Homo sapiens: one gene and its partners. The protein of the gene in region 4 purifies or fractionates together with the protein of the main gene of each other region. This does not show direct contact. Each region holds a gene or a part of one and is shown on either strand. Other genes may lie near its edges.

What was found.
Region 1: the proteins of OTUD6B (region 4) and MCTS1 purify together in Homo sapiens (affinity purification with western blotting; 2 studies listed by BioGRID, with this or other methods). This does not show direct contact.
Region 2: the proteins of OTUD6B (region 4) and BTBD1 purify together in Homo sapiens (affinity purification with mass spectrometry; 3 studies listed by BioGRID and IntAct, with this or other methods). This does not show direct contact.
Region 3: the proteins of OTUD6B (region 4) and LIMCH1 purify together in Homo sapiens (affinity purification with mass spectrometry; 3 studies listed by BioGRID and IntAct, with this or other methods). This does not show direct contact.

The regions. Positions count from the first base shown.
Region 1 is NC_000023.11:120,614,088-120,621,116, reverse strand, and holds part of MCTS1 (malignant T-cell-amplified sequence 1), read right to left. Parts: 3' UTR 1-7,029. UniProt on the Homo sapiens protein: Translation regulator forming a complex with DENR to promote translation reinitiation.
Region 2 is NC_000015.10:83,057,226-83,064,254, reverse strand, and holds part of BTBD1 (BTB/POZ domain-containing protein 1), read left to right. Parts: intron 1-2,409; exon of another isoform or gene 2,410-2,768; intron 2,769-7,029.
Region 3 is NC_000004.12:41,541,136-41,548,164, forward strand, and holds part of LIMCH1 (LIM and calponin homology domains-containing protein 1), read left to right. Parts: intron 1-2,318; exon of another isoform or gene 2,319-2,601; intron 2,602-4,079; exon of another isoform or gene 4,080-4,234; intron 4,235-7,029.
Region 4 is NC_000008.11:91,066,189-91,073,371, reverse strand, and holds the start of OTUD6B (deubiquitinase OTUD6B), read right to left. Parts: upstream 3,029-7,183; 5' UTR 2,988-3,028; coding exon 2,906-2,987; intron 2,235-2,905; coding exon 2,083-2,234; intron 1-2,082.

The DNA of each region.
Region 1 (7,029 bases), on a different chromosome or scaffold from region 4:
ATATTATCATTTCAATATATAATCAACAGGAAAGAATAGATAATTTACATTATTTATTAAGTCTTTGAAATCCAGGGTGTATTTTAGTTACAGCACATCTTAATTCAAACTAGTCACATTTCAAGTTCTCAGTGGCCACATATGGATGGGCAGAGGCTACCATATTAGATAGCATAGGTCTAAGCAAGTCCAGAAGTATGAGACCCCCCAATAGCTAAACATGAATGGGAGAAAACTTAGTTTCTTCTAAAAGTTGTATTTATTTTTCTGATTTTCTTGAATGCAATGGAAACTGCAACCTGACTTTTAGCAAGCCCCAGGCCATCTCCTTGCATGACTTTAATCACTGGATTTTTCTTCCCAAAAATTAAATCATTGGATCCGGAGCAAAATGTAGATTAGGCCCCTCAATGTTTTTTCCCTTAAATTATAACTGAACCCAAACTCTTCCTGTCATTAATTTTAATATCTTTTTTTTTTTTTTAGACGGAGTCTTGCTCTGTCGCCCAGGCTGGAGTGCAGTGGCACAATCTCGGCTCACTGCAACCTCCGCCTCCCAGGTTCAAGCAAATCTCCTGCCTCAGCCTCCTGTGTAGCTGGGATTACAGGCACGCGCCACCACGCCCGGCTAATTTTTTTTTTTTTTTTTTTTTTTGTATTTTTAGTAGAGACAGGATTTCACCATGTTGGCCAGGGTGGTCTCAATCTTCTGACCTCATGATCCACCCACCTTGGCTCCCAAAGTGCTGGGATTACAGGCACGCGCCACCATGCCCAGCTAATTTTTGTTTTTTGTTTGGTTGGTTTTTGAGACGGAGTTTCGCTCTGTTGTCCAGGCTGGAATGCAGTGGTGCGATCTCAGCTCACTGCAAGCTCCGCCTCCCGGGTTCATGCCACTCTCCTGCCTCAGCCTCCCGAGTAGCTGGGACTACAGGCGCCCACCACTGCGTCCGGTTAATTTTTTGTATTTTTAGTATAGACGGGGTTTCACGTTAGCCAGGATGGTCTCGATCTCCTGACCTCGTGATCCGCCCACCTTGGCCTCCCAAAGTACTGGGATTACAGGCGTGAACCACCGTGCCCGGCCTTCCCCAGATATCTTCAAAGCAACTGCTAGTCCTGCTTTTGCACATTACACTCTACATTCTCATTGCCCCACTTAACTAACCCTCCCTCATGTCCTTTTCTAAAGATGTAGAAGACTTTGAAATAGCATAACATTTAAATGGTCACAAATCACCTGGCTTGAAAGTGACTAATAATAGGAAAATCAGACCTCAGGACTGAGTTCAATTTCAAGATTCTCCCACTCCACTTTGCTAAGAGGGAAACAGAAAAACATTACTCCAGCCACACAAATATGATACTGTGCAAGTATCCCACTCTTACTCATTCAAATCCTACCCATTTTTTCCCATCGTGGAACAGAGTCTTGCCAACTTATACCTCTCTCCAATAACCCATAAAGATGGTGATTTGAATTTGGGCCAAGATTTAACATTTTATGAAATACAAGAGGAGAGTTTTCTGCAAAACACAGGATTTGCAGACAAGGAGACTTAGGTTCAAATTCCAGTTCTGCCATTTATTACCTCAGAGAGGTCATACAACTTTCCTGAAGTTGTATGACCTCTCTGAGCCTTAGTCTCCTCGTTTGTAAAATGAGAGTTAAAATCTACCTCATGGAATCATTGCTAAGATTAAGCAAGATATATAAGTAGAGCTTGTGCACATGGTAGGTACTTGGAGAATGTTATTTCTCCTTCCCTCTTACTCATCTGGACAAGTTTAACTAGAATTCTAAACAGTTAAATATGTATCAATCCTTTGTATTAAATATCTTGATGGTAAAATGTTAAAATATTGATGTGAATAACAGCTGGTATTGAATATTCAAATTAGGGGAACTCTTTCATTGTTTTAAGATAACATCTGTACATTTAATCTGTGCCATGCAATAAAACAGCTTTTCCTGAAACAGCTTTTTAAAAACTATTTTTAAGAAATTCATAAGTTACTTTTAAGAACATTAGCTTAGAACATCTTCCCCTTTCACAACAAATTAGACATTAGAGCCAAAATTGCCCAAATTGGTATAGTTTCTATCTCCCTACACTTTAATCAAGATGTTTGTCTTTATATCAGCAAAAACCGCTACTTAAGTGAGATTCCTGCATCCCAATAAATGTATCTGGGCATTTGGTACTTGAGAGAGGATTGGGTTTGACAACACCCAGAAGCTAATGAGGATGTGCCTTCTCTCAGACCTTTGCATTCAGGAGCAAGAAAGCAGAAATACTTTGTGGACTCCTTTTCAGACACTTTACAAAATACAAAATTTTAACCTTGTGAAACACAAAATAAATGCAGGATAAATGTCCAAACATTTTAGCCCCTACTGTTTTTGAAACTGAATAAAGCCATGATAGTGAAAAATATTTTCCAGTCAGTGCTTTTTGGAAGCTATTTAGTAGATATTAATTTGATGGGTTAGAGATTGCTATTATCCCATTAAATGAAGCTGTTTCTACTTCATATTCAAATATATTTCAAGTTGAACTTGCTTAAATCTAAAATGCTTACACAAGCAAACTGTGGAAAGAATTTAGTCACGCAAAAGAAAACTTTTTCTTAATCCTGGATAAGTCAACTCTAAGAAAGCTGTCCAGAGCCTACAGAGCAAAAAGGACTTTCCTTCCAGCCTCCTCACCATGTCCAATCTAGTCCAGATGTGAAGAGTCAATTTTGGTTTTAAACAAAATTTGCATGCAGCAGCATTAGAACTAATGAAAACAGTATCCAGACTAAGACGTGCATACAAAATCTTTCACATCATGAGAAACTAAAAATTTGTTAAAACATCAGTCGGCAGGAACAGACATCTCAAGCTCCACTGATAAGGGAAGCAAAACTGGAACTACATGCCGCTTTTAAAAGTGTCTCAAATTTAAGCTCACTCAAGGACTATTAATAGACAGTGTCAAACTGACATGCCGTTTCATCATTAAATCATCTTATTGGTTTGCAAGTTTCCAAGCCTCAGGGCTTCATTATGCATCAGCATAGGACAACACCAGAATTTGGGGACAAAGACAACATCCCTTTTTGAAAGAGGTGGTAAGAATAAAAACAGGTTGGCCAACCTTGGAAGCCACCGCAGTATGGCTTCCCATGAACCAAAAAGGCAATTGAATTGTATTTGTTTTCAAGGCATACGTTTGGAAAAATAGCACTTTTTCCAAGCATGTGCTTAGTTAGAACAAATGATTTATTGCTTAAAACCCAGTCTTTTACTCACACGCTTGTGAAAATAAGAAGAAATTACCTATTTCACCATAGATTATTAAATGGACGTTAACAGTTATTGACAATCGAGTCTTGTGATAAGAAATTAAAATTATAAAGTAAATCTTCCCGTCTTTAAATTCTAGGTGGTAGAGTTCTGAGAACACTTACAATGAACTTTAAGGGAGTAATTGATTATGCTTTTGAAGTCTCCTATATTCACATATTGGCTGAAAGTAAAGCATTTTAAAATTGGAGAATGAAATGAAGAGCAATAACATTTGTTATATGAAAACTGTGGTTTTACTTTTAAAATGGGATTTTAAAAATGTATTAGTTGGGTCGGGTGTGGTGGTTCACACCTGTAATCCCAGCACTTTGGGAGGCCAAGGCGGGTGCATCACCTGAGGTCAGGAGTTTGAGACCAGCCTGGCCAACATGGTGAAACCCTGTCTCTACTAAAAATACAAAAATTAGCTAGGTGTGGTGGCACACGCATGGGATCCCAGCTACTCGGGAGGCTGAGGCAGGAGAATCGCTTGAACCCGGAAGACAGAGGTTGCAGTGAGCCGAGATCGTGCCATTGCACTCCAGCCTGGGCAATGAAGCAAGACTCCATCTCAAAAACAACAACAACAACAACAACAACAAATGTATGAGTTGGATGAGTTTAATTTTTTGCTTTCTGTTTCTGCCTAAAGATAAACCAATTTAGCATATATTGATATTAAGATGTCTGCCATATTTTGAACGTTAGCCTGTTGATTTACAGTCTTCCAAATAAGACTGATGCCTGAAGCTCATTTTTTGGTTAACTGCTTCTGTTAGTTGCACACCTTTTCCTACCTTCCTCTAATCTTAAGTCTATTTAGTCATTTGAAATATCAGTTTTCACCTGTTAGTATTACTAGCTATGTTTGCTATATTTCACAAATACATTTCTAAAACAATCCATTAATTAGAATTGGACATTAATAGTGAGGCATGTCATTCTCTGTAACAACTAAGATTTTAAGTAGAAATTATTTCACTAATTCATCTTTTATTTCTCAAAGTATTCAAGGCTAAAATTTGGAGTTCTTTAATTTTCATTCTAAGAGGCAAGTATTAATTATACTAATGAGTTCAGATGTTTTTATTTATTTTTCCTCCCAATGACCTATTCTTAATGAACATGGTATTATTAAGAGACATTCCAGTGAATCATCTCCTGTATTTTTTTACATGCATAAATTATATTCCCTAAGGCCAGACTCTTAAACAGACAGATGAACCTAATAGTCTCAACAATGATTTAAAAACTGGCCCTCAATTTTCTTCATTCATTCCTGATCTCGTGGAGTTGTGGTCCTTTACTTGGTTTTAACACAGTATTCAACAAATTGTTGTTATAGTTGATAACATCTACTCATTCTTTTACCTGCCTTAAAAAGTGTAATAAAAGTATTCATACAAAGTATAAAATACATACAAGTATAAAAATGTATAATACATTTAATTTACATGCATCTCTACAATGACAAGTATGATTTCTTTAGAAACTGATGCATACATTTTCACTGTTTTTCTTTCATTATATATCAGTTTTAATGCATACTACTTAGAAATTAGAATCATTTTGAGTTTCTTGAAGAGCCTTGATAATTATAGTCTCAAAATTAAGGAACCTAGACAAACAAAGTTAAAATATTTATGACATTTTGCTTGGGCATACATTCATATTTCCATTAATATATAATTGCTACATTATTAATAAGTGACATATTTATTATAATGAAACACCTCCACGAATTTAGTGAATTGTAATTCTTATCTCTTCCTCTGAAGTATTATACTTAGAAATACGTATCTTCAGTTACTGATTTGGGTACGACAGGGAACCTGGCTGGATATCATTATTATTTGATATATGCCATATAACCTTCTGTTTGGGGAATATAAAATCCCTCAAATTGGAAATGTTCATGACTACCCATGGGATAAATCCAGCTGTTTTTGTTTGGGGTCCAGAGCATAAAAACAGAAAAGGAAAAATGCAGCTTCCCAACAGACCACTACCAAACCACCATAACAGACAGTCTGCTAGAAGAGAACTGATCAGGCCATTATGTCACCGGACAACAGGACAATCATCTGAGTTGGGATGCTGAATCACGGCAACTCCAAGACATCTGGGATTTTTTTTTTACCCTCACATTGGATACAATCTATGGAATATTACTACATTTAGTTCATTTGTAATTTACAATTTTTGATGACTAAAATTGGAAAAGGATTAGTACATTCCTACTGGCTTTACATATTAGTATTGGGCTGTCACCATTACCCAGATTATTTAAAATGTAAATTTTCTTTACTCACTAGATTGGAAGCTCCTTAAGAGCAAGGGCTACTTCTGTATTATTCATCTTCATGCCACGTCACTTAGAACCTAGTAGATACTCAATAAATACCTATTGAGCTGAACTGACCTTGTCTGAGTAAAAGTGAGTCCAATACACAAGTTACTAGATTGTAGGTTGGTTTGACACAAACTTAATTTTGAAACTAAAAATGAACTAAAGACACACTGCCTGAGAGAAGCAGGCTCTCTATCCCTGTATTCCTATTCTCACGAATATAGGTAAACTAAGTTTCCATTAAGCACAGTATCTAAAGATGCTGACACATCTGCTAGTTTAATCTCTTTGAATTGCCTTTCATGTATGACCTAATGTTTAGAAAATGACAAGGATCACACATGTAGAGTGACATCCCTGATTAACAGTGATGAGCAGAGGCCTCAGACCCAGGGGAAGCAGAGAACATACATATTTAGTCCATATCACCAAGGCAACACAGTGTACCTCAGCACAGTAGAAAAACAAGCACAGATGTTGATGTTGAATATTTAAAAAGTGTTCCTTACACCCACTGTAACAGTGGTTAGACACAAAGATGAATTATTTCAAAAACCAAGCTATTAAAAGTTTTTACTTCTCTAATGTATGTATATGTGTGCTTTGTTTTTCATTGCTAATACTCCATAGGCAGTCTTGGTCAAAAAACATTCTCTTAGCAACAAAAATAAAGGTTCAAAGTTTGATTCTGACATAAATGACTTGTATATTCTTTTTAAGAACATAAGGAGCTACAGGCCTCAAATAGGGTGCCTCCTCCCCCAAATAGGGAGACATCTGAATTTGAAGCCAGTAAGTCAGCAAAAAATTAAACTATCTGTTGAAGAAACCCCCCTGGGAGATGACTTACAAATGAGTTCCTGATGAGACTATTTATACTTTCGTGGACCAGGAATAAATAATATGGTAAGCTGCAGAATAAAACTGTCATAACATAAGGAAAACTACATGGAACTTGAAAAGGATATAGGAAATAAAATATCAGGGCACCTCTATGGGCTAGGAAAGAGATGAGATTTTGGCAGAGATAAGCATTCTAATTAATGATGAAGCAGGAAAAATTCTCCAAGTCTTACCTCAGCACAACTGAAATATTACCCCAATTTATCAATCTTCCTTTGCTCATACCTGTGTTTACCAAGTAACTTCCTGTTTCCTAATTGTTTACCATAGGCAGACCTATCACTATGAATTAATACATTTATATTCTAACTGGGGAATCTCCAAGTCTCTCAAGTTTCATCAGTGGGAAATGGTTTCTCAAGCTGAGGGTCAGACCCTGGATCTATGTCCACCTATGTTACATCCTGGGAGACCCAGCTGGAACAGCCAGCCAAATGATCTC
Region 2 (7,029 bases), on a different chromosome or scaffold from region 4:
GTAACGTAGATGTTGTTGTTAGCTAATACGTGACAAAAAGATGCCTGATAGTACTTGCTAAGTTGGAAGAGCAGGTTAGTTTGGGCATACTTGTAAACATCCTGAATTAGTTAACATTACTTACAGGCTCATGAACTTAAGTTTGAAGCCCTTAAAGAAACTGTGCACTTTGAACTGCCTGACCTTTAAATGATGTTCTTCAGTTGTTTGACAAATACTATATGCCTCCCTTTTGGGGCGCTTGTGAAACAGCGAATGGCTGTTGTAGGTGTTTGGGACACAGCAATAAACAAGAAAAAGTCCTTGCCCTCATGAAGCACATAATCTAGTAAAGGGAAACTAAAGATACAATGTCAAGTACTGATGAATGTTTTGAAGAAAAATAATCAAGTTATGAGAGAAGGAACATTCTCAGCAAGGGAACGCATTGTTTTCGGCACTAAGTATCTCCTGTTGGAGGAACACAAGAGTGAACCAGTGTGCCTTAAGCACAGTAGAGGGAAGTGGTAGAAAATGAGGTCAAAAAGATAGGCCAGACAGGATGGTGCAGGGCTTTAGAGACTGAGCGAAGACTTTTTCAGCTGGTATTTGATGGAAAGCCTTTGGAGAGTTTTGAATGAGATTGGGGAGGCGGAGGTGGTGGCAGGAGGTTGTGATCTGATTTACATTTTAAAAAAACAAACTCTTTCTGGCAGTGGTTGGAGTAAAATAGGCAGCAAGGTGATAGATGAAGAGGCTTTTGCAGTAGTCCAGGCAAGAGGCGATGGTGAATTGTACCTTGTACCAGGGAGGTAGCAAAGGACATGATGAGACATGGTCAAATTCTGGATATATTTTTGAAGGTACAACCAAGAGGACTTCCAAGACATCCAAGTAGTGTCATAGAGTAGACAGAAATATGAATTTGGAGGTGAGGGAACAGCTTGCTGAACATAAATTTGCAAGTTAAGAGTGAATGGTATTTAAATCGAGAGATCAAGTGAGATTACCTAGGAAGGCATGTAGACTGTGAAGAGAGGTACAAGGATGAGCTCTGGAATCTTCAAATATGTAGAGATGTAGCAGAGAAAAAGCATAAAATGAAACTGAGAAGCAGCTGTCAGTGGAATTAGAAGAGAAAGAAGGAGCATTATATTCTGAAAGTCAAGTCAAAACATTTCAAGAAAGAAGAAGTGGGAAATGTCAACTATGGAAAGTGGAAAGTGGTCAGTTATGCTCAATGCTATTGAGAGTCAGGTATAATGAAGACTTTGAGTTGATTTTTAATCTTGACAAGGTGGAAGCTATCGATAACCCTGCCAAGAGTGATTTCAGCTGATTAGAGTAGGTTAGGCAGAAAATGGGAAGTGAGGAGCTGGAGACAGTATAAACAGTCCTCTCAGGAGTTTTGTTGCAAAGGGGAACAGAGAATGACGTGATGGCTGGAAGGGGCACGAGGTAAGTGTTCTTCAGTATTCAGTCCTCAGCTCTCATCCTTTCTCCCATCAACCAAAGTGAGAGCTTTACGCACTCATTCCCCCACATGTGTCTCCAAAGCTCTACTTAGCTCCAGACCCTCATTTCCAACTGGACCATCGTGAAGTAATGTTTTATACCCATGCAGATGGACATGTTATTAATGAAAATATCTGACATTTAATGAGTACTTTTACTGTGTGCCATAGATTGTTCCTAAGCCCCTTTGTGATCTCACTTAAATTTCAGGAAAATCCTTTGAGACAGGCATACTTCTTATCCCCCTGCAATAGCTTTTGCCATATTAATGCTATAAATAAAGCAACCCCCAAAAAGCAATAATTTATTCTTGCTTATGATTCTGTAGGTCAGCTAGGAAATGACTTCATGGGCCTAGCTCCAAATTGTAGTTTCGTTTCACTCCATTCTACACATTTCTTGTCCATTTTAGACCATTCCTGAAAATTTTACCTGCCTCTCCATTTTTTTCTGCATTGCTTCAACCAAACTACTGCGTTTAGACTTAACTCTCTCCATTCATCCTGTTAACAGTGATCTCTCCAATATTGGTATATGGTCATATAATTCCCCTGAATCTTTTAATGACTTCTTTTTACCTACAGGATGTTTAAACACTTTAGCAGGTACATGAAACCTTTGTGATTTGATCTCTCTTTCTTCATCTCCTCTCCATCCACTCAGTGTTTCAACCCTAATTACTAATGGCCTTTTTCTTGTTTTAGTGCCTGCTTCTAAGGCCTCCTTACCTTTGTACTCCTCAGTCTTTCTGCCAGGGCTCCACACTTAATTACTACTCTTCAGATAATCTTCAGGCTTTACTTCCTCTGTAAAAATTCCACCCACAGGCAAAATTGCACACTGGCTCATCTAATTAATCTCTCACAGCATGTTTTGGTTATCTGTTGCTGTGGAACAAATCACTGGAATGCGTAGTGACTTAAACAACTTTTATTATCTTTTACAGTTGTGTGGGTTGACTGGAATCACTTAGGTGGTTTGTCGTCTATGTAGCTGTAGTCAGATAGCAGGTGGGGTTGGACTCATCTGGAGGTTTAACTCACAGTCTGGGATGGCTGAGCCTTAAGTCTCAGGTCCTCTTCAAGAGGCTTCTTCAGCTGGTCTCTCCAGCAGGGTAGCTTGACTTCGTGGCTCATGACTCCGAGGAACACAAAAGCAGGAGCTGCCAGGCATCCTTAAGGTGTAGGTCTCAGACTGGTGCAATGTCACTCTGCCACAATCTGTTGGTTCAAGGGGCTCACACAGGGACAACCCAGATTCATCATGGGACAGATCTATGTAAGGACATGAACACAAGAAAGTATGATTTCTTGGGGCCATCATTAGAGATTAGTTATTAGATATGAGTGCCTAATATATACTTCTGTTATTAGGACATTACTTTTTAATCATTTCAGTACCAGACTATAGTTGCGTGCTGCATAATGGCATTTTGGTGAACAGTGGACTGCAAATAAGATGGTGGACCCATAAGATTATAATACGGTATTTTTACTGTGCATTTTCCATGTTTAGATACACAATACTCACCATTGTTTTAAAGTTGCCTATAGTATTCAGTACAGTAACATCCTGTACTGGTTTGTAGCCCTGAAGCAATAGTCTATACCACATAGCTTAGGTGCGTAGTAGGCTATACCATTGAGATTTATGTGAGTGCAGTCTATGATGTTTGCATGATGATGAAATTGCCGAACAATGCCTTTCTTAGAATGTATCTCCATCTTTAAGTAATGCATGACTGACTGTGTAAGGTTTTTATGGGCAAAGCTATCTTACCCATATTTTTATCTCTAGCACTATTACAGTGCCTGCTATATAGTCCCTCAATAAATGTTTTTGAGTAAAATGAACAGATAAGTAGTGATACAAAGTTTCTTACACATATCTTGTGATCATTCTTATATAAAATCAAGTATTCACCTTAGGCTTTTAAAATTTACTTTATTTTATTTTATTTTATTTTTTGAGATAGAGTTTCACTCTGTCGCCCAGGCTGGAGTACAGTGGCGCGATCTTGGCTTACCCAATCTCCGCTTGCTGGGTTCAAGCAATTCTCCTGGCTTAGCCTCCCGAATAGCTGGGATTACAGGTGTGTGCCACCACGCCTGGCTAATTTTTGTATTTTTAGTAGAGATGGGGTTTTACCATATTGGCCAGGCTGGTCTCAAACTCCTGACCCCAGGTGATCCGCCTGCCTCGGCCTCCCAAAGTGCTGGGATTACAGGTGTGAGCTACCGTGCCCGGCTTTAAATTTTTAGTTAGATTAAATATAACCTAAGTTGTTTTTTTTTTTTTTTGAAAATTATTAATTTGGGGGGAAAATAGGACTAATTTGAGGACATGTAATAATTTTTCTGTGCTCTCGTCCTTAGAGGTTGTATATGAGAGCTTAAATGATCACTTTAAAATACGAAGAATTGTGGTAATGTCATGTTTAATCTTTACATTTTAAAAACCTTGGCTTAGTTTTTTTTTAAATATTATAAAAACTCTAATAATTAAATAGAATGTAAAGGAAATGTATACATATGAATCAAGAGGATTCTTGGATTTTTAAGTAACTTTTTTTATTAGAAATGAAAATATTTTCCCTTTTGACGTTACATAGAAACCTGTGCTGAATTGTCTAGTCAATTAACGTGTATTTATTGAGACTTAAACACATGCCCATAATGTGCCTGGTACTGTTTAAGAAATAAATTAAAAATATAAGATACACAGAGATCCTTTTCTTACTGTTTATTGTCCAGTATTTATTTTTAATTTGCAGTGCACCCAAAAGAACTTAAAATGTCTTATAAGAAACACAAGGGTAAGAAATAAACTAGAGTCAAGGGTGAAGCTAATAGAAAAATGTATGCTGTCAAGCTGGGTACAGTGGCTCAGGCCTATAATCCCAGCACTTGGGGAGGCTGAGGCGGGAGGATTGCTTGAGGCCAGGAGTTTGAAACTAGCCTGGGAAATATAGCAAGACCTGTCTCTACAAAAACATAAAGCATAAAAAAAAATGAGCTGAGCCTAGTGGCATGTGCCTGTAGTGTTAGTTACTCTGGAGGCTGAAGCAGGAGATTCACCTGAGCCCAGGAATTTCAGGATACAGTGAGCTATGATCGTGCCACCACTCTCCACCCGGAGTGACAATGAGACCCTGTCTCAAAAACAAACAAAATGTATAAGCTATAAACTTTTGTTGTTGTTGTTGTTGTTGTTTTTGAGACGGAGTCTTGCTCTGTCGCCCAGGCTGGAGTACAATGGCGTGATCTCAGCTAACTGCAACCCCTGCTGCCCGGGTTCAAGTGATTCTCCTGCCTCAGCCTCCTGAGTAGCTGGGATTACAGGCGCCCGCCACCATGCCGGCTAATTTTTGTGTTTTTAGTAGAGTCGGGGTTTCACCAGGTTGGGCAGGCTGATCTTGAACTCCTGACCTCAGGTGATCCACCTGCCTTTGCCTCCCAAAGTGCTGGGATTACAGGCGTGAGCCACCATGCCCGGCCAACTTTGTTTTAATTATCTGAGCAGCTAGTGCAAAAAGAGAAACCTGGGTGGACGTAATTATTTATAGATTAAAAACAAGGCAACTGCTTAGGAGATGCACAAATCTGATAATTAGATGAGTTTTTAAAAAAATCCTGATGAGATCCCCTCATACAGAAGACATTGCTGTAATGAAGTGTCTTCAGTCTGTGTCTTCAGATACATACTTGTTTTAAAAAATGTTCCTTGATAGAAAGCAAAAGTATATTACTGAAGTATAATTTGATAAAAGCAATTTGAATGGGAGATCTCACACAAAATAATCTACAAACTTGATTCTCTCTTGTTCCTGGAGTGTACTTCCCACCGTCCTTTTAATCTTTAGATCTAATCTCAAGCAGAAATTTCTCTACAAACCTTTTCCACATCTTCCTAAGTCAAAGCCCGCATTTATAGATTCTCATAGAACCATGTATAGGTTTGCGGCACTTGTCCTGTTAAGTGTGAATCTAATCAAGGGCAAATGGTGATAAAGGCCTCACATTGCTGCTCTGTTTTACAACTCTAGTAATTTTTACCTGACAAAAATACATCAAGGCAGGCATGTAAAGACTTCTAGACTGCTACCTTGTCCTTCAAACAAAAATTTCTTTTTTTTTTTAATTAAAAAAAAATTTTTTTAAGTCTCACTTTGTTGGCCGGGCTAGAGTGCAGTGTTGCGATCTCCGCTCCCTGCAGCCTCCACCTCCCAGATTCAAGTGAGTCTCCTGCCTCAACCTCCCAGATAGCTGGGATGACAGGCATGAGCCACCGTGCCTGGCCTAAAACAAAAATTTCATAGTTTTCTAGTTTAAGAAGGGAATTGAGCATGCTGTTAGCATTCTCTCTCTCTCAATTAAAATGACTATTAAGAAATTTTTAAAAAATAGTAAGTCCATTACAATGAAGAGAAAAAGAGAGGTTGGAAGGGCCAACAGAGTAGAAAGGGACAGAGAAGTTGGAAGCTGATTGATGGATGAACTAGAGTAGATGAATCTGGAGCCCAGAATCCAGAGCTTTCAAAGCCGCAGCGGAGCTGGAGCGCCTTTCCTGGCAGAACCCCAACAAAGTTCTTGGCTAGCAGTTGGAAGTAAGGAGGGTGGAAATGAGAAGGTAGTGCTAAAACATGGAAATTAATTTAAAGCCTGTGTATAGACCATCCCCTTAGCCAGCTGTCCATGACAATGGACAGGCTTTTTGAGATAAATTGAACAAACTGCCTGAGAAGAACTGGGACTGCTGGGTATGGCTTTGGGACCCCAGGGTTAAGCTCTCTTCCAATGGCTTTGAGGGGTCCCTGCCCTAGGGCTGGCTTCCCACTCTAATGCCAGGTGCCAGTCAGCAAGCCTCCCACATACACAGAGCTCCCAGCCAACATTTCTGTTTTGGAGATAGTATTATCTTGAAAACAGACCAGCTGCTTAGAATAGTGAAGTTGGAGACGGAGTTTAATCATCTGACATATAAGGAAAAGCAGAACGTGAATGACAGAGACCAAGAGAAACACAACAGCGGATCCTCAAGGAAACAGACGAGAACTTTTAAAACTTTGGTTAATGTCATCTTGGAGACTTCAGAAAGTTTTTGCGTTCATAAAACCAGCACATGGTGCTGTGGAGAAAAAAGGAACGATCAAGAAAGAAGCAAGCATTCTTAGAAATTTAAATGTGATTGCTGTAGAGAAAAATAGGAAGGCACCAGAAGATAATGGCAAGGAAATCTTCCAAAATGCAGAGGGAAATAATGATAAAAAATATGAGACAACATACAGATAAATAGCTAATATTTACTGAGGCAATTTTTTTTGTCAGGCGTTATTCAAAATGCTTTGTGTTTTAATTTATGTTAATCCTCACAACCACATTATGAAGTAGGTGCTCTTATTCTCATCTTTTTAGAGAGGCAGGCATTGATAATAAGTCACATGGCTAGCAAGTGACAAAACAAGCTCAAACCCAAGCAGTCTATTTCCTCTTGGCCTTACTGTATGGCACTGAAAACAGTCAGAAGCCCTGAAAT
Region 3 (7,029 bases), on a different chromosome or scaffold from region 4:
GGAAATCCAAAGCAGTAATGTATCATCAACCTGTGAAATGTAAAGAAGCACAGGTAAGTAGTGAAAGAATGAAGGAACCAAAGCAGTTGTTGTAATGATATAAAATAAGAGCCATAGCTTATTAGACCCTTAGAGTCCCAAAGCCCAGCCTTGAGAGTGTAGATTCGGGAAGGCTGGATTCCTTTGGCATCCTCTCTTTTCAGCTCTGGGTACTGCCGCAGCAGGTGAGCTTGTGTTTGGTCCCTTTCAGAGTCTGGAGTCTCCCATCTCTTGGAAATACAAGGATATGTATGAGCTACCAACTCCCATCTGGCTTTACTGGTCTGTGAAACATTCTATTTTAATTTGGTGAATCCTTTTTTGACTCTAGAGATCTTCAGCAGTACCTGCCCTTCACACCGTTTCCTCACCTTTGCCAGATCTGCTTTTGAGTAGCAGTTTTATCCCTAGATGTCTTATAGCCCAGACCTGGTAAATCACCAATGTGAATTATAGAACAGGATCATTTTTCATCCTGCTTTCATCCCAGTGGCTGGATTAATTTTTGGATCTCTGCTTTCTGTAAGCAGTCATTTCTTCCACAGCAGCCATCTGTGAAGAAACAGAGCTTACGAAATGACTGGGGCATGTTTTACATGGCTGTGCTCAGTTCCTTCTGTTTGATTCCCATGTAAGCTTTGGCAGTGATTTCCACAAGCGTTTCTGTGGGAGGTGCTGGAGAATGACTTTGGTAAACAGCCCCTTGGCTATTGTTGGCCCTTTCCCTGCAAATACCATAAAGGACACAACTTGAAAAGTCGCTCTGGTTTCTGAGCCCCTCCTAGGGCCCACCCCAGGTCCGACATCTGAAAAGCCGAACTCAGCCATGCTTGTGGTAGAGCAGCGATGTGGACTGCGTCTGTGTTTGCCTGACTTCTGCTGGGCCACTCTGGGCTGGATGGGAGCTCTGACCATAGAGCTTACTCCCCTCCCCTCATTACACATCCTGGGATTTTCACACTAGCCCTCAATCTGTTGGAGTCTTTTTAGGTAGAATCTCATTTCATCTTCCTCGTTTCCGTTTCAGGTTTTCATTCCAAGAATGGAATGGCTGGTTCCATTGAGAACCAGCCTTAGGAGTTCTCAGTGTATTGATTTTATTTACACTGCTAGTGTTACATTTTGCTTTTAGGAATATGGAAAAGCTTAGGGAATTTTTGGACATGTGTTTTTCTCTCTTTCTTTCTTTTCTTTTTTTTTTTCCTGATGGCCAGAGGTTTCTGCTCTCAAATTACTCAGTCAGGGTAATTAAGGACTAAAAAAATGTGAATGTGTGAATTTAACAGTAAAAACTTAAAGGAAGGAAAAAATACCTTCCTTATAGGAAGAAGAGAAAAATGCATATAAATAAACTTGTTAGAAAGAGAAAACTGATTTACCAGCAACTGAACTCCCTTTTGTTTCTTGATTTTTTTGCCTTTAAATAGGCTGTGCTATTTCCTGAAGTTGACCCATTTTCCTTGCTTCTGCCAACACTCCCTTAAGATAAGTATTTATAAAGTTTATTCCACGTTGATATTTCAATTGTTTCCAGAAATCCATCCCATCATAGCAGCTTCCCTACTGCCAGGGAACCTGACCTCAGTATTTCCTGAAGTCAGAGGATGGTCTTATATGTATGTAAGTGCAGGTATCTACAGTAAGAGAGAACAACTTGCTATATAGGGCTCATATGAGTCAACGCCAATAAATTGAAAATAAGAACTGAAAAAATTGTAACATTGTCCTCACATTATTTTTAAAGCATTATCTGTTTCGATGCTGGCAAAACTGATTATCTTATATAATGGCCAAAGGAACTGTTCACTTTCAAGAAATAAGCAACTAGCCTGTCTTTGTTTTCATCAGCATGTTTTTTGGTGACTAATATGTTGATTTGATGAAAGCTAATTGCACAAACATGCGGTTTGTGGGGAAGAAGGTAACGCATGGAACTATGTCTAAGAGATGTGGGTGTTCATTCCATTGGTGGATCCAGCACTTTCTTCCTCAATAAAGAGTATTTGTTCCTAAAATAACTGGTGTCCTTCAAGGCACAGAATGTCTAACTCAGCTGAAGGTATTTAATTTATATTATAAATGTACATATATATTTTATGAATTTTAATAGAAATATATTAATTTACATTTATAAGTTTAAACATAAAAACATAAAATACATGAAATATGTTTGAGTGTATTGTTAGGGACATCTCTGAGCTCCTGTGGAGATAGTGTTTTTTCCCTAACATAACTTACATTTAAGAAAATTGGATTTTTCATGAAATTTACTCAAGTAAGACTGTAGGCTGAGTTTAATATATATGACAACTAAACTTTCGGCCCATATTGCACCAAATTAAAGCTTTCTTCTTTGTCTTTGAGCACAAGAATGAAAGCTGGCATACTGTCCGGTAGACTGAAATGTGTCCTCATGGTCATTTTGACCACCTTATGAGCATGATTAATTGACAACATGTTGTTACTATCTTAATTCTTTGGTCTGAGTCTCAGCTCCCGTGTCAGACCTCTGAGTCCCAAACATAGCGCCACAGTCTGGGTCTTCACATCTTGGCCAGGTTTCTGTTAAAAAAACAAAGGCGCCTCTGTGTTATACTTTTATGGAGCACATGTGGTGTGTATTTATTTTGTGATAGGTTTTTATCACTTGGTAGAAAGATGTTACTGTATCTTAAGTGAACGATTGTTTCACCCTGTTGCTCCACAGACCCTAGTTGTTTCTTTAAAATGGGCGATGGATTTTTAGGGGCGTATTCACAAACCTGCCATGAAAGTCTTTCTTCTCCAGATGTTTACTTCTATATTTTTATGTGAAATTCAACTTTTTCACCTATGGACATGCTTCCCTGCAGCAAATAACATGACAAACTCTTTGCCTTTATATTGTCTTTATATTTCAGATACCCCCCCACCCCCACCAAGCCTTCTCAATTCCAAACCTGTGATTATGCTGGATGCTTTACGTGTTATGCTCCGGCTTGTAATGGGCCAACTGAAAGATAAACTGCTATTAAATAAATCTATGACTCTTTTGAGAACAAATAGAGCTGTTGAAAGAGTTTAAAAACATAGTGACTCCTCGAAAGACTGTGAACATTCTTGAACCCTTTGAATCAAAGTGAATTTTCTTCACTCTCTGTGTGTGGGTATACACTGAAACTTATAAGAAAGAACCTCAGTAGCAAGATATTTGAAGGCTTTTGTGTTCTTAACCCTGCAAGGTTTTTCTTGGCAAGACTTGAAGAAAATGTAGCTGTCGTCTATTTTCTGCTCCTGTCGAGGGGAGCAGTTGAGTCTGGGAGGCCTCTAATGTGTCAGAGAGAAGCCTGCAGAGTAGAGAAGAGCCCAGAAGCCTCCAGGTGCCCAGTGGTTCCCTAATTATTCCATTACCTAGTTACCTGGTTTTCTATTACCTAGTTACCTAGTTATTCCATTCCATTCCACCTCCTCTCCAAGCAAGGCTGGGTGGTTCTTCTATTTTGATCTCTTCTCATGTGTCTCTGTTGCTGTGGAGCTGCAACATCAAAGCCTACCCCAGACCACACGTGTCTTCTGTTGCCACCACGTTTCCCTCTGGACACTGGATCAGCCTTACTGCCATTAGGATGCTTATGCTTCCTAGAAAGCCTCATTTATCTGTGCTGGGGCAGCTGCTGAGGACTACACAAGATTCACTGTCATGGGTTTAGCTTTCAGGGACTCCCCAACTTGCCTAAGTTACCTCTTGGGTCCTTGATTGAAACTCCAGTTGCCAAGTAATGAAGATACAGAATTTTGCATTGATCTCTCTTCCCTTTTCCATCTTTCCTGTTTCCATTCTGAAAGGAACTGCTCTGAACTGGCAAATGCCTACAGGGACTTCAGTGTCATAGGACAGGCTACTTTGACTCCTTTGTATAACCTCAAAGTCACTGCCAATACAAGGGTAAAACAGATTCTGTTCTTTGTACTCAAATTCAGTGTGATGTGAGTTGGAATGCTAAGAAAAACTTAAGAGATATTTTTAGCAAAAATGAAATATTTTGATGCCTATCGCTCACCTGAAAATTTTCCCAGATTTGCCATTTCTAGATTTTTAGCAGCTTCACAAAGGGGTATTGTGTTTGAGTCGGAAGAGAAAAATGTTTTTATTTCCTGTCCTTGACGTTTAGTGGAATTGATAAAAAGCATCAAGGATCTTTGAGTTCTGGATCTCCTGCAAAAAAACACATTATGTAAGAAAGGACTTGAGTGTTTTTTTCCTGTTCGTCAGTACGAGGGGAGAGTTACTGTGGAAAGTGAAGGGCAGTGATCATCAGGAATGGAAAACAAAGAGCTTTGCTAGAAAATCACAGCAAGGGTGATCAAGCAGTTACCCTATTATCTGGCTCTAAACTTAATGTTGACCTCGACAACGACTTTTACATCCTCCCCCCAAACAGGCTCCTTTACTCATTCCTGAAAGGACACTGTTGCAACTTGAGTTATAGGGTTGTTGGAGCTACCTGATGTTTTATTAAATGGTTATTTAATCAATAAATGAGTGAGTGATCATCTCTTATGGTTGATCAGAAAGTATTCATTTAAAAAGTCATAGGTTTAACTTTTTTAAAAGTCAAGTCAGCACAGAGCTTATGTATTTAAGCAGTTGGAAGTCAAAATATTAATATGTTCAGTCAAGAATATCCATTTCGTTTCATACTTACTTGGCAGTTTAATTTTTTTTTGGCCATAGTTTACATGGTCCAACTGTTAGGTTGCTTAAATTTGCCAATATGAAATATTAACATTGGGGTGAATGCTTTATGAAAACAAGAAATTGTTTCTGCTTGGTCTACCTGTTTATTCATTCATCAAGATTTCCCAGGCTCTGTCAACAGATTTCTAAGCAGATATTTGATGATATATTGTTATAGGAATAAAAAATATGTTATAGAAATAGAAAACTACCTTCCATGTAGAGTAGAAAGAAGCCTTCATTGGTCTGTTTTTTTTGTTTTTTTGAGATGGAGTCTCACTCTGTCACCCAGGCTGGAGTGCAGTGGTGTGATCTCAGCTCACTGCAACCTCCACCTCCCTGGTTCAAGCAATTCTCCTGCCTCACCCTCCCAAGTAGCTGGGAGTACAGGTGTGCGCCACCATGCCCAACTAATTTTTGTAATTTTCATAGAGATGGGGTTTCACCATGTTGGCCAGGCTGGTCTCGAATTCCTGAGCTCAAGTGATCTGCCTCTCTCAGCCTCCCAAAGTGCTGGGATTATAGGCATGAGCCACCATGCCCAGCCTGTATTTTTTTTTTTTAATAAAAATAATCCTTGGGCAGCTGTTTATGTTGTTCTGTTATGCTTGCCTATCTATAGAATGAAATCAATGTGGTTTTTTTTCTCAACTTTCTTCTTTTTTATTCTTTTTTAGCCCCATCATTCAGTCTCTTTGTTCCTAAGTCTTTCAGATGCTTTAACCACACTATTTTCTTACCTGATTTTCTGTTCCACTTAGCATGTTATTCCAGGCAATGAATGTGTTGCTTCCCCTGTGATAGATTATGGCACTAAAATAGTAATGAGCTTTAGTACAATCAGAGCAAAAATTACTCTCCTAGGTAAGCCCCATTCTTCCCCTAGCTCAATTCAGTGTTCCATTAGCCACAGAAATGCCAAGGATTCCACATACCTACATATATATATGGAGAGAGAGAGAGACAAGCGAGAGAGAGAAAGAGAGAGAGAGGTTGAGACCGAGATTGAGACAGAGAGAGCTAGTTCCCTGTCAGGTCTTTACTACTGGAAGAGTCAAAGATTTGCAAATGGAGATTTTTCTTTGCATCTTCTTCTTCCTATTATCCTTTTTTGTAAACAATGTTTATTTTATTTTTAATTGACAAGTAATAATTATATATATTTCTGGGATACAAGGTGATGAGGTGATGTTATGATGTCTATACAATGTGGAATGATCAAATCAGGCTAATTAACTGTCAGCTTGCTGACTTATTTCTTTGTGGTGAGAACATTTAAAATCTACTCTTCACACAATTTTGACATATACATTATTATCAGCTATAGTCGCTGTGCTGTCTAATAGATCACTGGAACATACTCCTCCTGTCTAACTGGAATTTCGTGTGCTTTGACTAACATGTCACCTTTCTTCACCCACCTGTTACCTCCTCCTTAGCCTCCGGTAACCCCCATTCTACTCTCTACCTCTATGAGTTTGGCTTTTTTAGATTCCAAGTATAAGTGAGATCATGTGGTATCTGTCTTCCTGTGCTTTTTATTCTTAAAGATATTAACTGCAGAGGCCCAGCTTCATCCCCTGTCTTAGCCACTTCCCAGCCCAAGGTGACCTTGGGCTAATAATTTAAGTTTCGCATTTTTTCATCTGTAAAATGATGATTAACTATAGTATTGACCTTATAAGACCATAGTAAGGATTAAATGAGCTAATATATAATAAAATATACAGATATTATAAATATATACATATATAATATATACAGATATAAATATATACATATATAATATATGTATGTTATATATACATATATAATAGTATACACATATATACATATATAATATATACATAAATAATATATAAAAATATAAAAATATAAACATACATATAATATACATATATTATAAATAAATACAATATAATATACATTATAAATACATATAATGTTTTATGATATATAATTTGTGTGTGTGTATATATATATATATATATATATATATATATATAAACAGTGAGTACATTACCTAGTGCATGGTATGTGCTCAGAAAAAGATGACTATAGTAATGGTGCTGGCAGGTGTTAATGTCATTCATATTTTTCCCTAAACCTCTATTTTCCCATCTATTAAATAGCATAGTAATAGTACCTAACTCATTAATTTGTGAGGAATAAAGGCATATGGATCAACGTAGCATGTTGCCTGGCACCTTATAAGATCTCAGTGAATGATGATGTATACTTCTGCAATGATACAGATCATTGCACTTCTCCTG
Region 4 (7,183 bases):
TCCTACCCTACCCTTTTCCATCTACAAACTGATAACTGCAGGCAGAAAATATATTTAATTTGTAATATCATTTGATATTATAATCAATCCTAAATGGCTAGTGTGTGTTTGCTAGAGTAAAAAAAAAGATGCTAGACTTTTAACTATAAGGATGAGTAGCCATTATTACTGCAACTCTAAGGTAAGCCAGTTTTTAGTATAACACATGCATAGAACAACTCAAGGCCTTTAATACACAGAGACAGAAGTCTGCAAAGGCTGTGTCCCAAATGATCAAAATATCAAAATCAGATAGAGACTTCAAAGAGTGGCTATCAACTATAGTGAAATTAGGAGTCCTGTGATTCTTCAGAGGAAGCTGTTAAAATTTACAAACATCTATATTGACAATAGGCAAGATAAAAGAGATGCATCTGAAAAACAAAAAAGCAATGGCATTAGTTTTTGGTAGTATTCAGAAAAGAAAACCAATTTAAATTAATGAAACAGATAAATAGTTCAAACTAAAATGGGAGTTTGTGTTTTAACAGTAGGACTCCATGTAGCTTATGAATCAAACATTTTTGTCCTTGGAAACCTGGGAAAGAAACCTCAAAATGGAAAGGTCTGAGGGAGCAAACAAAACTATCTCATTAATAGAAAAGATGGGGAGACAATTAGGAACACAATTGTCACAACACAATTTAACGCCTGGAGTATCATATATGCCTTGTTACCTGGAGATGAAGTACATTAAAGGCAAGGAAAGTTGGGAACTTGATAACTAACAAAGTTAAAGAAATTTAGACTATATTTAATGTAAGGACCATTATAAAAAGCACAGACAAGCTGTACTTGTCAACAGCAAACCAAAAATCAACCAAAATTTAAGTATGGCAGATTAAGATTTTACATAGACATAAGAACTTTCTATCAAAGATGGAGTGAGGTTGTGGGGTCTATATGACCCTTCATATCCAAAACCCATACAATAAATACCACACTATACAAAGCTGTAACAGAATTCAGTATTCACTTCCTGGAGTAAGATAGTTCTCATTTGGAATTCTGGCTTTGGCAATCAACAGCTGTTACGACTCCTGGACAAAGTTCTTAATCTCTCTAACCCTGTTTCCCACTTGAAAAATGGGATTATGTATACTTACTTCATAGGTAATACCTCACAGTGTGTTACTGAGGTTAAATGAGATAATACATATAAACCAAAGTATTTGACACATATATATTAGATCCAACGATAAAATAAATATTAGTTAAAATTATGAAAGTTAGGATGCTCCAACTTACCCAAGAAACATCAGTAAAATTTCATTCATTACAACTTGTTAATAAAGCACTTTTATAACAAAAATGACTTCACGTTCACTTTCTTGATTCTTACAAAAACCTGTGCTTAGAGTGTAGAAATATTTGTATCGTATTATATATGTGGGAAAATTTGAGCTCAGAAAGATTAAGTAACCTTGCTCAGGTTACAATCCCATTCAGTCGCAATTCTGGGATCAGATGCCTGGTCTTCCAACTTTGATTTGGTGAAGCTTCATCTTTTGGGCAAGTAAATAGGTAAAGAAGTATAGCACTTTCTTTGCCGATCTCCCTTATAGAAACACACTGCCCTGTAAACTTGGTCACAAAAACATTAATGAGAAGTGATGCATGAGCATAACTAAGTGATTTCATTTCCCTACCAATTTTATGATTTTAGATAATAAACAGTTTAACAGGGCCGGGCACGGTGGCTCACGCCTGTAATCCCAGCACTTTGGGAGGCCGAGGCGGGTGGATCACAAGGTCAGGAGATCGACACCGTCTTGGCTAACATGGTGAAACCCTGTCTCTACTAAAAATACAAAAAATTAGCCGGGCGTAGTGGCGGGCGCCCGTAGTACCAGCTACTCGGGAGGCTGAGGCAGGAGAATGGCCTGAACCCGGGAGGCGGAGCTTGCAGTGAGCCAAGATTGAGCGTGTTTTGCAAAGCGAGACACCGTCTCAAAAAAAAAAAAAAAAGCAGTTTAACATTTAACAGAAGTGGACAGCTGTTTTCAAATGGTGTAGGCAACGACAAACATTTATTTCACATACCTTATTCTCCTTAGTAGTCAGCTTCAATTGCTCCAGTTCCTCTCTATGTTTCTGTTCCATTTCTTTTTCCAACTTGGCCACATCTTCGGTGAGTTGCTTCCTCCTCTTCTTGTCATTCTTGGGAACAGCATTCTTCATGCCCTGAATTTTGGCTGAAAAGCCATTAAAATCATTAAGTCAGACACGCAGGAGTAAAAGGAGATGAGAAACAGGAACCAATAAGGGGATGGTAACGGGCGAAGGGTACAGAAAAAGTAATTATGGAAGAAAGAGTCATCACGTAACAGGCAGCTACAGAGAGAGAAGATCCCAGATAAAGCTGAGACCAAAAAAAAAAAAAACTTCATTAACAAAATCTTGAATATGTTTCGGTTGTTTGGCGAGATAAGAGAAGGAAAAAAACCTGACTGTAGCCAGTTTTAAATCTTTCCGGTATCCTTTCTGAACCTCCTAAACTGAGGCGGGTCCATTCAAAATACACCCATTAGGGACAAGTATCGGTAACTGGGGCAGGTATAGAAAAGGGAGGCATCGTGGGTTTGGGAGCGGACCAAGACGGCGGCTTCTAGGTATTTTCAGACACCTGCACCCCGGCGGCGGCGCGGGGTAGGGGGCACGCCGCAGGCCTCAGAAGGGGAAGCCTCTGAAGGTTGGGGAATTAAAGGGCCGCCGGGGTAGGTGAAGAGAGAAGAGGCCACTTGCTACTAGGGGAAGTCTAGGGTGATCCAGATAAGTCACGCCTTGAGATTCCCCAGAATCGACCCGCCACGCGCCCTTCCCCCAGTCGCGGCGGCTTCCAGATTCCCACTTCCTTCCGCCTCACCTTGCAACTCCTTCTTCTCTTTGCGATGCCTTCTCAGCAGCTGCTCTTCCTCATCAAGCTCTTCGGTCAATACCGCCTCCATGACGACCAGGTACCCCAGCACACGCGCTAGAAGAAACCTGCACCGGCTAGTAGGCACCTTCCACCCCTCAACCCTCACCCGGGGCTCCATTGGCTACGGCTGGGACCCAGCCCCGCCTTCAAGGCGGCACCGGATCTAAGCAAAGCCACTGCAAAGACGAGAAACTTAAATGGGGTGCTGCGCGTGCGCGCTACCGTGACCCTGCCGTGATGGGCGGGGCGGCAGGGGAGGAACCAGACTGCGAGCGGAGAAGCGGAGTTTGCAGCCTCGGAATTGGCTAGAGCGCCAGAGCCGAGTCAGCCATAAAGCTACGCGCTAGGCTCTTGGCCCTGACGTGAGGCGCGCAGAGATGGCGTAACGGGAATAGTTTTCAACGTCTATTTCATTCCCTGCTTCAGAGGACCTCTTTAATCTTTGATTTTGGTCCCTGTTTCTAAGAAAAGCAACTGAAAAGGTAAGAAAGAAAAATAACGCATTTTAATAAAGCCGTCGATAATTATCAATGGGAATCTTTGGGCTGTTTGGGGCTGTGTGGAATTAAATTATGTTTATTGTCTCCAAGGTCGTAATACCGCCCCTGAGAAAAAAGGAGCAGCGCTAAATAATCGAGAAAATGCCTCCTCTTGAAACGGATATAGAGATGGAAACAAGATATAAGAAGGATTGAGAATCATATAATACAGGAGCTTAAACACCTATGCGCGATGATAAAGAGGGTACTATTAGAGCGCTTGGAAAATACCAGGAAGTTGAGAGAGTTAACAGAAGGGCGCACGCTGGATTGGCCACAAAATCGAATTACTGAAGTAAGTGCAAAACGACAAATTGTCACAGAATACAGAGAAAAGGGGAAAAGAAATTAAGAGGAGAAAAAGAGAGATCTAGAGGGCCGGTCCAGGAGATACAATCTATGCATAATAGGAATACCTGAAACTGAGGACAGAGCAAGTGGAGCTGAAACAATAAAGGATCTACTTGAAAAAATTTTCCAGAATTGAAGAACGAACTAGATCTACAAATGGAAAAGGCTCATAGGATACCTTTAAAGTTTAATGAAAAGAAAGCAGCATCTAGACATATCCGGGTGACGTTTTTGAATTTCAAAGACGAAACATTTTACAAGCATCCAGTCAGAGAAAGCAGGTTACTTACAAAGGGGCAAAAGTCAGGCTGACCTCAGATTTTTCTCCTGCAATTCTAAATGCCAGAAGACAGTGGAACAATATCTAGAGTGTTAAGGGAAAATAATTTTGAGCCAAGAATTATATACTCTGCCAAGTTATCATTTCTTTACAAAGGAAACTGGAAGACATTCTTAGATATACAGGGGTTAGGAAAGTATATCAACCAAGAACTTTCCCTGAAAATTTTGCTGAAGGATTTACTGCAGCTAACAGAGAACCTGAATTAAAATAAGAATAGGGAGGCAATTGTATGAAAGAACTGATGGTATGCATTAAAACTAGTTAAGGAGCATTAAGTTTAAATTGTTATGTATAGGGCATTAAAACTAAATACAAAAATAGAAACATAAGCTGGGTGTAAAATTTCAGTTTACGTTTAAACTGGAAGGGCATACCACATGTTCAATATATTGGACAAATACTGTTTTATTTTTAGCATGTAGTATTGTAGATACAAATACGCATGTTCTTAAGCTAAACCTAAGTAAAAGGGCTTTGTCACTGTAGATTTGACAAATAACATTCTAAATGTCAAATCTGACAATTGGAAAACAGTACAGTTTTATTTCCCTTATTTTTAAGTATAGCAGGAAAAAAATAACAAGTTTGTCCATGTTACTACTGATACTGTAAAGAAACTTCCAAATCACTGGTTTGGGAGGGGGTGGATACATCCTCATTTTCTGTACATGATGCATGGGGAAAAACAGTAGTTACTGCATCATATAGTTCCAAGTAAATCATATAGTTCCAAGTAAATTTGACATGGAAATAAGTGTTAACTACAAAAATAGAATATATACATTCCAATGTTTGGAAAAGAAGTGGTAAAAAGAAAAATAGCAAAAAGACACTAAAATTAGCAAAAAGTAGATTGACAGTACAGATGACCTATAAACTGGTTAAATAGCCCTATTACAATTGAAATTGGGTCAAAAATCAATCTCTAACCTGAGATACATTTGTATAAAACAAATGATCAAAGAGTTTAAAGATAATGGAAACTATAAATCATAGAAATGGCAACATTTTTCTTAAAATCTAAACATAAGACATTTTATGTAAAACATACAATATAGGATGTAACATTTAACAAACTATATGGTAAATAATATGACATTAATATATAAAATATATGTTCCAGATCTTGATGTGGGTGATAGTTTTACTTATGTACATCGATATACATCTATTTAAAAACATGTACATTTAAATTGTTGCATTTTATGTATTTAAAATTTATTGAGTAATCCTTCTGTATGTATTATTAAAGAGAATATAGCAAAAAAATATGTTGGACTATGACTTCAACATTTATGATTTCTTTTTTTAGAGACAAGAGGGTCTTGCTTTGTAGCCTAGGGTGGAATGCAGTGGCAACATCATAGCTCACTGCAGTCTCCCAACTCCTAGGCTCAAGTAATCCTCCTGCCTCGGCCTCCCAAAGCACTAAGATTACAAATGTGAGCCACCAACCCAGCGCAGTTACAGCTTTTGATAAATCAAGTAAATGGGAAGTTAAGAGATAAAAGGTAGTTAAATAGTTAAAATATGTGTGTAATATATATATTACTTTTCTACCTTATTTTTGCATTCTCTTCAAATTATCCTGAAGCATTTCTAAATGATTTTATACTCAAATGTAGAGAAAACTTTAACATATTTCTAGAAAGCACTCGTGACCACATTACAAAAAAAAAAAAACCCTAGAAAATAATAATTTTCAACCCTGAAAAATCACACACTTGGAATTTTTTTAATGTTCTTAAATAATCTTTCGGTCAAAGAGGAAATTATAACAAATACTGATGATTTAGGAAATACAACAATGAAGATAATTATACTTTACATGCTATGGGATGGATGTAGAAAAGGCAAGAAACAGGAATTAAAACACTAAGTGAAGAATGGAATATGCATGGGAAGGACTCAGTAACTAAAGTTCTTCAATTTTGCTACCTTTCAAATGAGGAAGTAGTCTGCCTTCATAGTGGATTTATCCCCAATATGTTATGAGACCACAATTTACTTATTTCTCCCAATTGAGCTTTAATGTAGCATAATGAATTCTGAGCATCTGACAATTGATTCTCAAGGAAAGGAAAGCCCAAGTCTCCTTTTTTCTTTCCCCTCCCTGCACTGTTTCCCCTTCACAGACCTCCATATAACAATATTTTAATGTACAACACTTTTATTGAAAAGTATGGCCTTCAGAAAAACAGCATTGGCATTACCTGGAAACTTGTTAGAAATGCAGTATCTCAGGTCAATAGCAGCATAGTATTAGATTATAAAATCTTACATATTTACAAGACTTCTCAGCACAGTGCATTATACATTGTGAATGCTCAGTAAATGCTATCCAGAATATATGTAGAAAAAAATATTTGGATGTTGCCAAAACATTAATAGTACTTATATCTGTGTGGCAGCTTTTTGGATAGTTATTTACTTCTTTATGTTTTTTAACATATATTAAAAAGCTATTTTGCTTTTATAAATTAAACATTTCCGCAGAAATTTTGAAAAGTATATAGATGATGATAAATGTTACCTGTTGTATTAGTACATTCTCATGCTGCTATAAAGAAATACCCAAGACTGGGTAATTTATAAGGAAAAGAGGTTTAATTGACACAGTTCTGCATGGCTGGGAAGGCCTCAGGAAACTTAAAATTATGTCACAAGGTGACAGGAGAGAGAGTGCAAAGCAAAGAGGGGAAAAGCCCCTTATAAAACCATCAGATCTCATGAAAACTCACTCACTATCATGAGAACAGCATGGGGGAACTACCCCCATGGTCTAATCACCTCCCACGAGGTTCTTCCCCCAACACGTGGGCATTACAATTTGAATTACAATGAAGATGAGATTTGGGTGGGGAGAAAGAGCCAGACTGTTTCACCTATGATCCCACCATGTAGAGAGACCCTGAAAACAGTATATTTCCTTCTGGTCAATTAAATTACTATTCAAATTTAGAATAATACTATATATAAATTTCTGCTTCA